Regions from separate parts of the Homo sapiens genome. Here region 1 is linked to region 2. Evidence: fine-mapped expression QTL. A gene starts in region 2. The other region holds a variant in brackets. All regions are shown on one strand. Distances are from middle to middle.

Region 1 (5,372 bases), 71 kb after region 2:
GCATTCAAAAATTTTCAATGAAGCTATAAAGCTCCTCCACCCCAGCTAGTTTGTTTCCATTTATGTATTTTTCCTTATGCTGTATCTTTCCTGAAAACTTGTAAGCTTTCCCATCTTTCTTTTTTTCCCTTTCTTCTTAATATTTTTAGAAATGGGGTCTTGCTATGTTTACCAGATTGGTCTTGAACTCTTGGCAACAAGCAATCCTCCCCACTAGGCTTCCCAAAGTGCTAGGATTACAGGTGTGAGTCATCCCACCCAGTGAGCTTTCCCATCTTTTGCCTGCTTCTCTAGGATGCCAATCTGAATTCACCTTTTCCTTTAGCTTTGTCCCACACCAATCACTCCCTCAGCTTTCTATTTATCATACTACGTTCCCGCTTCCTAGCAACTTCACATCTTGATTTTCCATTTGGGCTCTTTTTTAAGTCTTCTAAAGAATTCAGGTTCCTCATAAAAGGAGTCATTACGCTTGGGCAACATGGCGAGACTCCCTCTGTACAGAAAATACAAAAATTAACTGCGGTGGTGGCGTGCGTCACTAGACCCAGCTAGTCAGGAGACTGAGGCAGGAGGATTGTTGAGTGACACAGCAAGACCCTGTCTCAATTTTTAAAAAGCGGGGCCGGGCGCTGTGGCTTACGCCTGTAATCCTAGCACTTTGGGAGGCAGAGGCAGGCAGATCACTTGAGGTCAGGAGATCAAGACCATCCTGGCCAACACGGTGAAACCCCATCTCTACTATAAATACAAAAATTAACCGGGCGTGGTGGCGGGAGCCTGTAGTACTGGCTGCTCAGGAGGCTGAGGCAGGAGAATGGCGTGAACCCAGGAAGCGGAGCTTGCAGTGAGCCGAGATCGTGCCGCTGCACTCCAGCCTGGGTGACAGAGCGAGACTCTGCCTCAAAAAAAAAAAAAAAAATTAAAATTAAAATTAAAAGCGGGGAGGTGCGGGGGGTGATTACTTGTTGAATACAATTCATACAGTTAGGTTTGAGGAAGAACTTTTTTTCTTTTTTTTTGAGATAGAGTCTCACTCTTGCCCAGGCTGGAGTGCAAGTGGCTCGATCTTGGCTCACTACAACCTCTGCCTCCCGGGTTCAAGCGATTCTCCTGCCTCAGCTCTCGAGTAGCTGAGATTACAGGCGTTTGCCACCACGCCCGGCTAATTTTTGTATTTTTAGTAGAGACACGGTTTCACCATGTTGGCCAGGCTGGTCTGAAACTCCTGACCGCATGTGATCCACCCGCCTCGGCCTCCCAAAGTGCTGGGATTACAGGCGTGAGCCACCGCGCCCGGCCCAGAACTTCATTTTTAAGATAATAAACTGAGGGGCTGAGACGTTTTAAGAGACTGTGAACACCTGGGCTGGCACTGTTTTGAGAACAATCAACGAAAGGGGAAGGGAGAGAATAACCACCGCACTTCCCAGAGAGTCTAGGCATGATTCTGGTCCCTTAACAGTTACCTGTTTAGGGTCCTGTATGCGCTTTCCACGTTCCCTTCCTGTACCATCACAGTCCTGGCGATGAACTTCAGATGTTTTGCCATGACCTTGGATTTAAACCTTCACTCTGTAGAGCCTAAAGGATGATGGAGAAAGGGCGAGGAAAGCAGAAAGAGAAACGCAACATAATACAAACTACACCGCGCGGCTTATTTAGGATTTGGAAATTCAACATGCTCAGGGACGCGCGAGATGGAGCACATGGAAGTCATCCTAGAAAGTAGACGTGAATCGTTGTCTCTTATTCTCACTGCCAGTCCAAATCCTCGCATAGAGAAGAAAAGAGATGGCAGCAGGGCGTTACCACAAAGACGCGTCGCCGGGCATGAGAAGGACACGAGCGACAAGGATGCGCCACAGGGTCCCAACCACCACACATAGTTCCAAAAGGGGTTGAGTTGGGAGTTGGGGAAGGACTCTTTGTTGGTCTTTGGAAAAGGGGGCGAAAGCCCGCAAACCTGCCCTCTCGCCAAGCCAGCCTTCCTTTCCCCAAACCCTGCACAACTCCTCACCTCGCGCGCTCAGTACCTAGCCCACCGGAAGGGTTCTCACTACCGGAAGCGGAAATTACGGAATCGCCAGCGCCGCGCAAAGAAACAGGCCGAGGGAGACAACGTGCGTGGAAACCATAGCAACGTCCTTTCTGGCCTCTGTTGACTGCCTCTCTTCCCCGGGCCTGGACTCTACACCTGACAAAGCAAAATACTCATTGACTTAAATTCCCCCGAAACACGTTTCTCGCCCTCTCATGGAGTCGAAGTCCTTCGGCCTCTGAGAAGGTCAGCCCAATTTCATACCCCTTAATCCTGTGAAATCCTTGATAAATATTTGAGCCATTTCTCTTTCTCGATGGAAAACAAGAGAAGTAGGCGCTTCCTGAGGATGCTTCCTGTTTTCTCTTTGGAAAGGACAGACTCTTTGAGATCTGCTCTCCGGACGAAAAATAGATTGATTCATACACGTCATCTGCCTAAGTGCTAAGGAAAAGAAATAAACATACTGTGAGTTTCCTATATCATCTTCCCACTAATTTAACTACATAAAGTGAAATCAATAAAGATATATGGGAAACACCTGCAGGGTTTAGAATAAAAAATTATGTCAGCTTCTATGCCTTTTCGTGCTA[A/G]TGAGACCTACTGAAAAACCTCCTTTTAAATTTCTTCTTCGCTGTGGAGACACCCGTCCTCCTATTTGTATGCTACCTGTACATATCCATTTATGGTTATTCACGTAAGTTAACATCTAATGGCTGTAGGAAAACGTACCTCCCTTAGAGAGAGAGTGCGCGCGCACGCTCACGCACACACACACACACACAGACACAGACACAGACGTGTGCATCATCAGTTGATGCTAATAACTTACACTAACACTTAAGCCCACCTCAGAGTAAGCCAGGTCCAAAGTAACGAAATAGAACTAGATTGGGACATTATTATGCTTGTCAACAAACTTTCACTGAATGACTACTCTGTGTCAGATACTGTTGATACCACTCTAGTGCCTCCTGGACCACTAGGACCACATAAAAGATACTAAAACAAAGTAGTATATAATAAATGCAAAATAAATTATATGGGCTGGACGCGGTGGCTCACACCTGTAATCCCAGCACTTTGGGAGGCCAAGGCAGGCGGATCACTTGAGCCCAGAAGTTCGAGACCAGCCTGGGCAACAAAGCAAAACTCCGTCTTTACAAAAAATATAGAAATTAGCCGGGTGTAGTGGCATGGCCTGTTGTCCTAGCTACTTGGGAGGCTGAGGGGGAGGATCACCTGAGCCTGGAAGGTCAAGGCTGCAGCGAGCTTTGATCACACCACTGCACCCTGGCCTGGGCAATAGAGTGAGACCCTGTCTCAAAAAATTAAAAATGAATAAATAAATAAATAGGGCCAGGCGCGGTGGCGCACGCCTGTAATCCCAGCACTTTGGGAGGCTGAGGCGGGTAGATCACCTGAGGTCAGGAGTTTGAGACCAGCCTGGCCAACATGGTGAAACCCTGTCTCTACTAAAAATACAAAATTAGCCAGGCGTGGTGCCACATGCCTGTAATCCCAGCTGCTTGGGAGGCTGAGGCAGGAGAATCACATGAACCTGGGAGGCGGAGGTGGCAGTGAGCCGAGATCGCACCATTGCACTCCAGCCTGGGCAACAAGAGTGAAACTCCATTTCAAAAAATAAATAAACAAACAAATAATAAATAAAATATGCCACAGCATAATGTGGTGAAAGGCACTGGCTTCAAAGTTGGGAGATCTGGATTCTATCCCAATTCTAATACTCATCAGGCCTATGACCTTGAAGAAGTCATTTAAAACCAGGGGTCTGGAGACTACAGTTTACAGGTCAAATCCTGCTCCACCTGTTTTTGTAAATAAGGCTGTTGACCTACAGTCATGCTTATTTGACTGTGTGTTATGTATGGCTGCTTTGGGCTACGATGGCCGAATTGGGTAGTTGCAATAGAGACATAAAGCCTACAAAGCCTAAAATATTTACTATCTGGCCCTTGCCAGACTCACTCTATTTCCTCATCTCTAAAATGGGACTAATTTTGCCCTGTTCAGTCTCACGAAATTTGTCATGGGAATCAAATAGAATAAAATATGAAGATATGCCGGGCACGGTGGCTCACGCCTGTAATCCCAGCACTTTGGGAGGCTGAGGCGGGTGGATCACGAGGTCAGGAGATCGAGACCATCCTGGCTAACACAGTGAAACCCCGTCTCTACTAAAAATACAAAAGATCAGCTGGGCGTGGCGGCGCTCGCCTGTAGTCTCAGCTACTTGGGAGGCTGAGGCAAGAGAATCACTTGAACCCTGGAGGTGGAGGTTGCAGTGAGCTGAGATGGTGCCACTGCACTCCAGCCTGGGTGACAGAGCGAGACTCTGTCTCCAAAAAAAAAAAAAAAAAAAAGAGAAAAAAAATATGAAGATACTTTGAAAGAAAGGAAGGGAGACAGGAACTGATGTTAATAAGTTCTGTTAACCACTACCATTGGATCAGCTGGAGAGTAACATTTTTGAGAGCCTACTATATACTAAACCCTGTACTAGGTGGGTGTTTTTTATTTTTGTTTTTGTTTTTCTGAAACAGAGTCTCACTCTTGTTGCCCAGGCTAGAATGCAGTGGCACCATCATAGCTCACTGTAGCCTGGACCTCCTGAGCTCAGGTGATCCTTCCACCTCAGCCTCCCGAGTAGCTGGGATTACAGGGACATGCCACTACGCCTAGCTAATTTTTTGTATTTTTAGTAGAGACTAATTTTTTGTATTTTTAATAGTTTCACTATGTTGTCCAGGCTGGTCTCCCAAAGTGCTAGGATTACAAGTGTGAGCCACCCCACCAGGCCCCAAACCCTGCACTAGGTATTTTATGTACATGATTCCATTTAATGGAGTAAACGGCCAAACACTGAGTGTATAGATCATGTTTAACAGAAAGAATGATAGGATGGACTTGAGTTAGTCGTTGAAAGAGGGCAGGGTTTAGATAACAGAAGCAGGAAAGGTTTGGCAAGGTGAACAGCATGAACAAGAGCTTAGGGGCAAAAAGGTGTAGTGTTCAGGAGTCAAAACAAAACAAAACAAAAACCTGCAACAGAGAGATCATGCAGGGGAGCACAGGGAAAAATAGAGACTGTGACTAAAGATTTTGGACTTTCTTCTCAAAGCATTCGAGAGCCATTGAAGAATTTGAATAGGATATGATATGCAAAGCACTGTTCTAGGAAAATTAACTTGGTTATCAGCGAAAAGGGATTAGAAGAGAGACTACTGGTACAGTGAAGTCTAGACCAGACTGGTGGCAATGGAATGGATAGGAAGAAATGGATTTTAAGAGATATTCCAAATAAAGAATA
Region 2 (5,372 bases):
GTACAATGAGATGACTGGGCACATAGCAGATACTTAACATGTGAGTCTTCAATGATGACTGTTATCATATTTGATGTTTTTGCACGTTATAATTTTACCTCTGGGCAAGAAAATAACTCTTTGATCGGTTATTGGTAAACACAGGTAATTCTGTCCGGTATCTACTAATTTCTCTGCATTATTATTCAAAGAACCACAAAACATCCCTCCCAAAACTTTAAACACAAATAGTTCGAAGCATGGGGCCTATAATTTTGCAAGTTTTATCTATCTGTTCTCTAAAAGGTAAACAAATCAAAACACTACAGGAGCAATGGCAGAAGTGGAATAAGGCAGAATAACTGGATGATGGGTCTCACTGGTGAAATGCCGCAGGCAGGAAGCAAAGAAAAATTCTAATAGATGTATATGGAGTATGAGTTAACCCTCTCTTCTCAGCAGGAAACAGTAACTTCTCCACACTTCCTCCTATAAGATTTGAAACGTTCTGCAAACAATCCATGCTTTAACAGAGCTCGTTTCTGCAGTAAAGCAGCAAAATGGAAAAATCTCCAGGATAAAGACAAAAAAAACATAACTGGAGAAAAAGGTACTACATATTCAAAAAGCACATTTCCTGTGCACATTACCCATGAGATCAACTCAATTGTGTAAAAAGGTATTTCAGGTAATTAAAAAGTAACGGGGCCGGGCACGGGGGGCTCACGTCTGTAATCCCTGCACTTTGGGAGGCCGAGGCAGGTGGATCACCTGAGGTCGGGAGTTCGAGACCAGCCAGGCCACAATGATGAAACCCCGTCTCTACTAAAAATACAAATAATTAGCCGGACATGGTGGCGGGCGCCTGTAATCCCGACTACTCGCGAGGCTGAGACAGGAGAATCGCTTGAACCCGGGAGGTGGAGGTTGCAGTGAGCCGAGATCGCGCCACTGCACTCCAGCCTGGGCGACAAGAGCAAAACTCCGTCTCAAAAAAAAAGAGGAACTGGACACGCTTTATATTTGAAGGTATTAACGATGATACTGACTACTGTATCGCAGTTGTTTCTGGTCAGTATCCAAGAAACCTGTATTTTATTGCAGCAAACACAGGTACAGGGAAAACCCGGTGGTGCCTCAGATCTATGTAGAGCTCATGCTGCTTCTTAACATTCATCCAGGTAAGGCTCTCCTTACTACACATCACAAGTTTTAGATACATTCATCCAGACAAGGCACTCCTCATTAAACATCACTGGATTTACTACTGCTTAAAACCACAGCTCGCCTACCATCAGGAAAGCCAGAAATCATTAACACGTCAAGGCCTGTAAGAAATAAACAGACGCTACAATTTCCGCGAAGGTTCGGAAAAATCAATACACCTTACAAGGCTCTGAAATATTAAAAACAATATACGTAAATCTCCATGGATCTGGGCCCAACGGCCCAAGGTCACAACAATTCAATGGCTAAAAAACCCAAGAAATGAGTCTCCTGCAATTCAGGACAATCCTGGCTAGGAATGGAGTCTGGGTTTGGGACCACTGGGGTCAAACCTTTAATGTGAACAACCCCAACCAAATGCTGCGGCTCCGTGGGAAAACCCCAAGCGTTTCAGGCCACACTTCCTTCCATTTCCCCAGTCTTCCCTTCCCTAGTCACCCCCAACACTCACATCTCCGGAGCCACTTCATCCAATGATAGACGATAGTACTGTGGTGTTTTTTGTTCTCTATACACCAAGACGACAAGCCTTGAATGGACTCCATGGTGTTGGTTACCGACTGGAATTTTCGATCCAACGAGGACTCCAGAGCCCCTGCCGAAGAGGCCGACGAGGAGGAGGCCTTACTGCTGCCTCCGCCGCCGCCGGCCGCCATCTTCCCGGTTTGCACAAGCGCTGCTGCTCCTCTGGCGGCGGCGGCGGCGGCGGCGGCGGGAGCGGGCAAAACAATCACTGCGAGTGCGTGAAAGCCGTAGGTGGGGAGGGAAGCTAGGGGGTGGGGATGGTGCACGCGCTGGGCTCTTCTGGAGGTACGGACGGGAACACCAGCTGCTGGGCACGCTGGCAGCTCCTACACGCTGCAAGGAGGGGCTGCGGGTCTCGGAGGTTTTATCAATATTGTTCAAGGGGTCGTGTTTAAACCAGTCAGTAATCACGGAAAAATTACGCAGAAAACAGGACCTGCAAAGCCTTTCAAAACGCCTGACGCCGAAACTAATCGTTTTATACTTTTCGGCTCTCAGTGCTAAGGCCCTTCCCCGCCCCTGTTCCCACACTCCTGTGAGCCAGGTCGGGCGTTAATATCTTAAATGTAATACTACCCGACTGCCCCTTCAGTTGCAGAAATCTTTCTTTCCTTTAGACTCGCTAGCACAGAAAAGGTCCAAGGCTACCTAGTCAGGATTTTTTTTGCAACGCAATAGCAGCAAAGGGGCAGCAACAGTATCGCGCACGCGCCACTTGGCCCCACCCCCCTACCCCTGCTTCCTTCTCAACCTTGAAAGCAGAGGGAGGCGTGATGGCGGGGCAACCTGACCAATCAGGAGTGGAGAACCACAAGCGCGCGCAGGAGCTCTGAAGCCCCCAGGGCCCAGGAGGCGCTACGATTATTTTTGCGCCTGCGCAGAAGATAAGCGTGTAACGGGATGGAAGGAAAAACTGGGAGGGATGGGTGAGGGAGCTGGTATAACTAAGGTTAGCCGGGTGGGGGGGTTCCCCTGCCCCGCCCTTTGCTGCTTTTGGCCGCTCTCTTGGGTGTGTTCAGCTCACACAACAGAGACAGAAAATTCCCACCACTGAGACCACTGTTAGTCTTCAGGGGGCTGCAGCCATCGCCCCCAACTCCTCGGAGGAGCAACGCGCGACAAAATGGCTGGCAGCCATCTTGCGGCACCACAAAAGATGCGCATGCGCCAGATCCAGTGAGCCATTCACTACGCAGACTCCGACACCAAACCGTATTTATTGCTGCCCATAGAAGATAACATTCACAGCCGCTTGACCATTTAGGTTACAGGAAAAGGAAATAAATGAGGAAGTGAAAGGAAATTTTCCTCATAAAATTTTTCGAGGCGAAAAAAGAATGGCAAGATGTGACCTCATTTTCGCCAGCTATGATACAATCTTAAAATTGCATAATACATTACAGTTTTCAAGAGTCTTACGTAACTATTATATGAACCTTATACGAACCATTTTATCGCAGGTATCTATGTAAATCCTCTGAGCTAATTTAAAGGCTCCTGTGTTCCCACTAAACATATACAGTTTTAATTCTTTTAACGTCTCCTCACTGCGGCCATGCCTCTTGAGGCAGGGAACCTGTTTTGTCAAGTTCATGTCCACTATTCATTAATTCAACGAGTTGTTGAACCTCTTGTGCCAAGTACTGTTTTAGATCATGGGGAGCAAAACAGACAAAAATCCGTTCCCTCCGGGATTTAGTGGCAGGACACCACCAACAAGTACATTTCAGACAGTATTAAATTCTGTAAAAAGGTGAAGCAGGGTAAGGGAGAAAGGGGTGTGTGTGTGTGCGCGCGTGTGTGTACGTGTGCACGGCACGCACGCGCCAGTATAAGAATGGTGGTATGGTGAACCAGGAAGTCTTCTCGAAAGAAATAACTCGATCTGAACATTGAGAAAAAAGCAACCAAGCAGATATGCGAGACGGGGAGCGGAACATGCTGGCATTAGGAACAGCAAGTGCAAAGGCTCTAAAATACAGTCTCGCTCTGTCCCTGCCAAGGCTAGAGTGCAGTGGCACTATCATATCGCACAGCAGCCTCAATCCCCCAGACTCAAGTGGTCCTCCTGCCTCAGCAGCACAAGTAGCTGGGACTACAGGCCTGCACCACCACACCTAGCTAAAAAAACAAAACAACAACAACAACATTTTTTTGAGAGGGGGAGTCTCCCTATGTTGCCCAGGCTGGTCTCAAACTCCTAGCCTCAAGCAGTCCTCCTGCTTTCAGCCTCCCGAAGTGCTGGGATTATAAGCTTGAGCCGCCATGCCTGGTCCTGACCCCACATTTTTTTTTTTTCTGTAACTCTAGCCAAAGACCCACTTTTTTATAGACTATTTTTAGAGCAGTTTTAGATTCACGGCAATTGTGTGGAAAGCACAAGGAATTCCATATACCACCTGCCCCCACACATGAATACCCTCCCCCATTATCAATGTCACGCACCAGAACGATACATCTGTTACAACTGACAAACCTACACTGACACATTATCACCCAAAGCCCATAGTTTACATTAGGGTTCGCTCTTGGTGTTATACCTTGAGTTTGGACAAATGTGCATGTATCCACCATTACAGTATCATACAGAGCAGTATCACTGCTCTAAAAACCTCTGTGTTCCACCTATTCATCCTTCCCTCCCCCTTATTCCCCTAGCGACTACTAATCTTTTTACTGTCTTCATAGTTTTGCCTTTTCCCGAATGTCATATAGGTGAAATCATTCAGTATGTAGCCTTTTCAGACTGGCTTTTTTCACTTAATAATATGCATTTCAGGCGGGGCACGGTGGCTCATGCCTGTAATCCCAGCACTTTGGGAGGCCGAGGTGGGTGGATCACGAGGTCAGGAGTTCGAGACCAGCCTGGCCAACATAGTGAAACCCCCGTCTCTACTAAAAATACAAAAATTAGCCGTGCATGGTGGCGCACGCCTGTAGTCCCAGCTACTCCGGAGGGTGAGGCAGGAGAATCACTTGAACCTGGGAGGCGGAGGTTGCAGTGAGCCAAGATCAGGCCACTGCACTCCAGCCTGGGCAACAGAATGAGATTCCACCTCAAAAAAAAAAAAAATGCATTTCAGTTTCTTCCATGTCTTTTCATGGCTTGATAGCTCATTTCATTTTAGTGCTGAATAATATTTCACTGTCCAGATGTGCCAGTTTTATTTATCCATTCACCTGAAGGACATCTTGGTTGCTTCCACATTTTTGCAAGTATGAATAAAGCTGTTACAAACATCTCTGTACAGCTTTTGGGGTGAATATATTTTCAACTCCTTGGGTAAACACGAAGGAGCACAATTGTTACATCATATGGTAAGAATATGTTTACTTTTGTAAGAAATCATCAACCTAAGGCCGGGCGCGGTGGCTCATGCCTGTAATCCCAGCACTTTGGGAGGCCGAGGCCGGTGGATCGCCCGAGGTCAAGAGTTAGAAACTGGCCAGCCTGACCAACATGGTGAAACCCCATCTCTACTAAAAATACAGGGCCAGGTGCGGTGGCTCACACCTGTAATCCCAGCACTTTGGGAGGCCAAGTGGGGTGGATCACAAGGTCAAGAATTAAAGACCAGCCTGACCAATGTGGCGAAACCCCCTCTCTACTAAAATTACAAAAAATTAGCCGGGCGCAGTGG

Evidence for each region. PIP is the estimated chance that this variant, and not a neighbour inherited with it, causes the effect. A credible set is the group of variants that fine-mapping cannot tell apart.
Region 1: its variant is the best candidate, but not a certain one, in a credible set for the expression of RPRD2 in lung (TOPMed, PIP 0.61).

What each region holds. Positions count from the first base shown.
Region 1 is chr1:150,290,547-150,295,918 of GRCh38, reverse strand. MRPS21 (mitochondrial ribosomal protein S21) reads right to left here and starts at 2,058. Exons shown (of 3, transcript NM_031901.6): 1 at 2,021-2,058; 2 at 1,470-1,584. The coding sequence starts at 1,552. It overlaps LOC105371434 (a long non-coding RNA gene), which reads left to right and starts at 2,099. Exons shown (of 2, transcript XR_922129.4): 1 at 2,099-2,287; 2 at 2,422-2,619. RefSeq lists an enhancer at 1,711-1,770. The variant A/G (reference allele first, on the strand shown) is at 2,635.
Region 2 is chr1:150,361,205-150,366,576 of GRCh38, reverse strand. RPRD2 (regulation of nuclear pre-mRNA domain containing 2) reads right to left here and starts at 2,430. Exons shown (of 11, transcript NM_015203.5): 1 at 1,658-2,430. The coding sequence starts at 1,862. RefSeq lists enhancers at 870-1,159, 1,643-1,922, 2,673-2,982, 3,143-3,212, 3,193-4,135.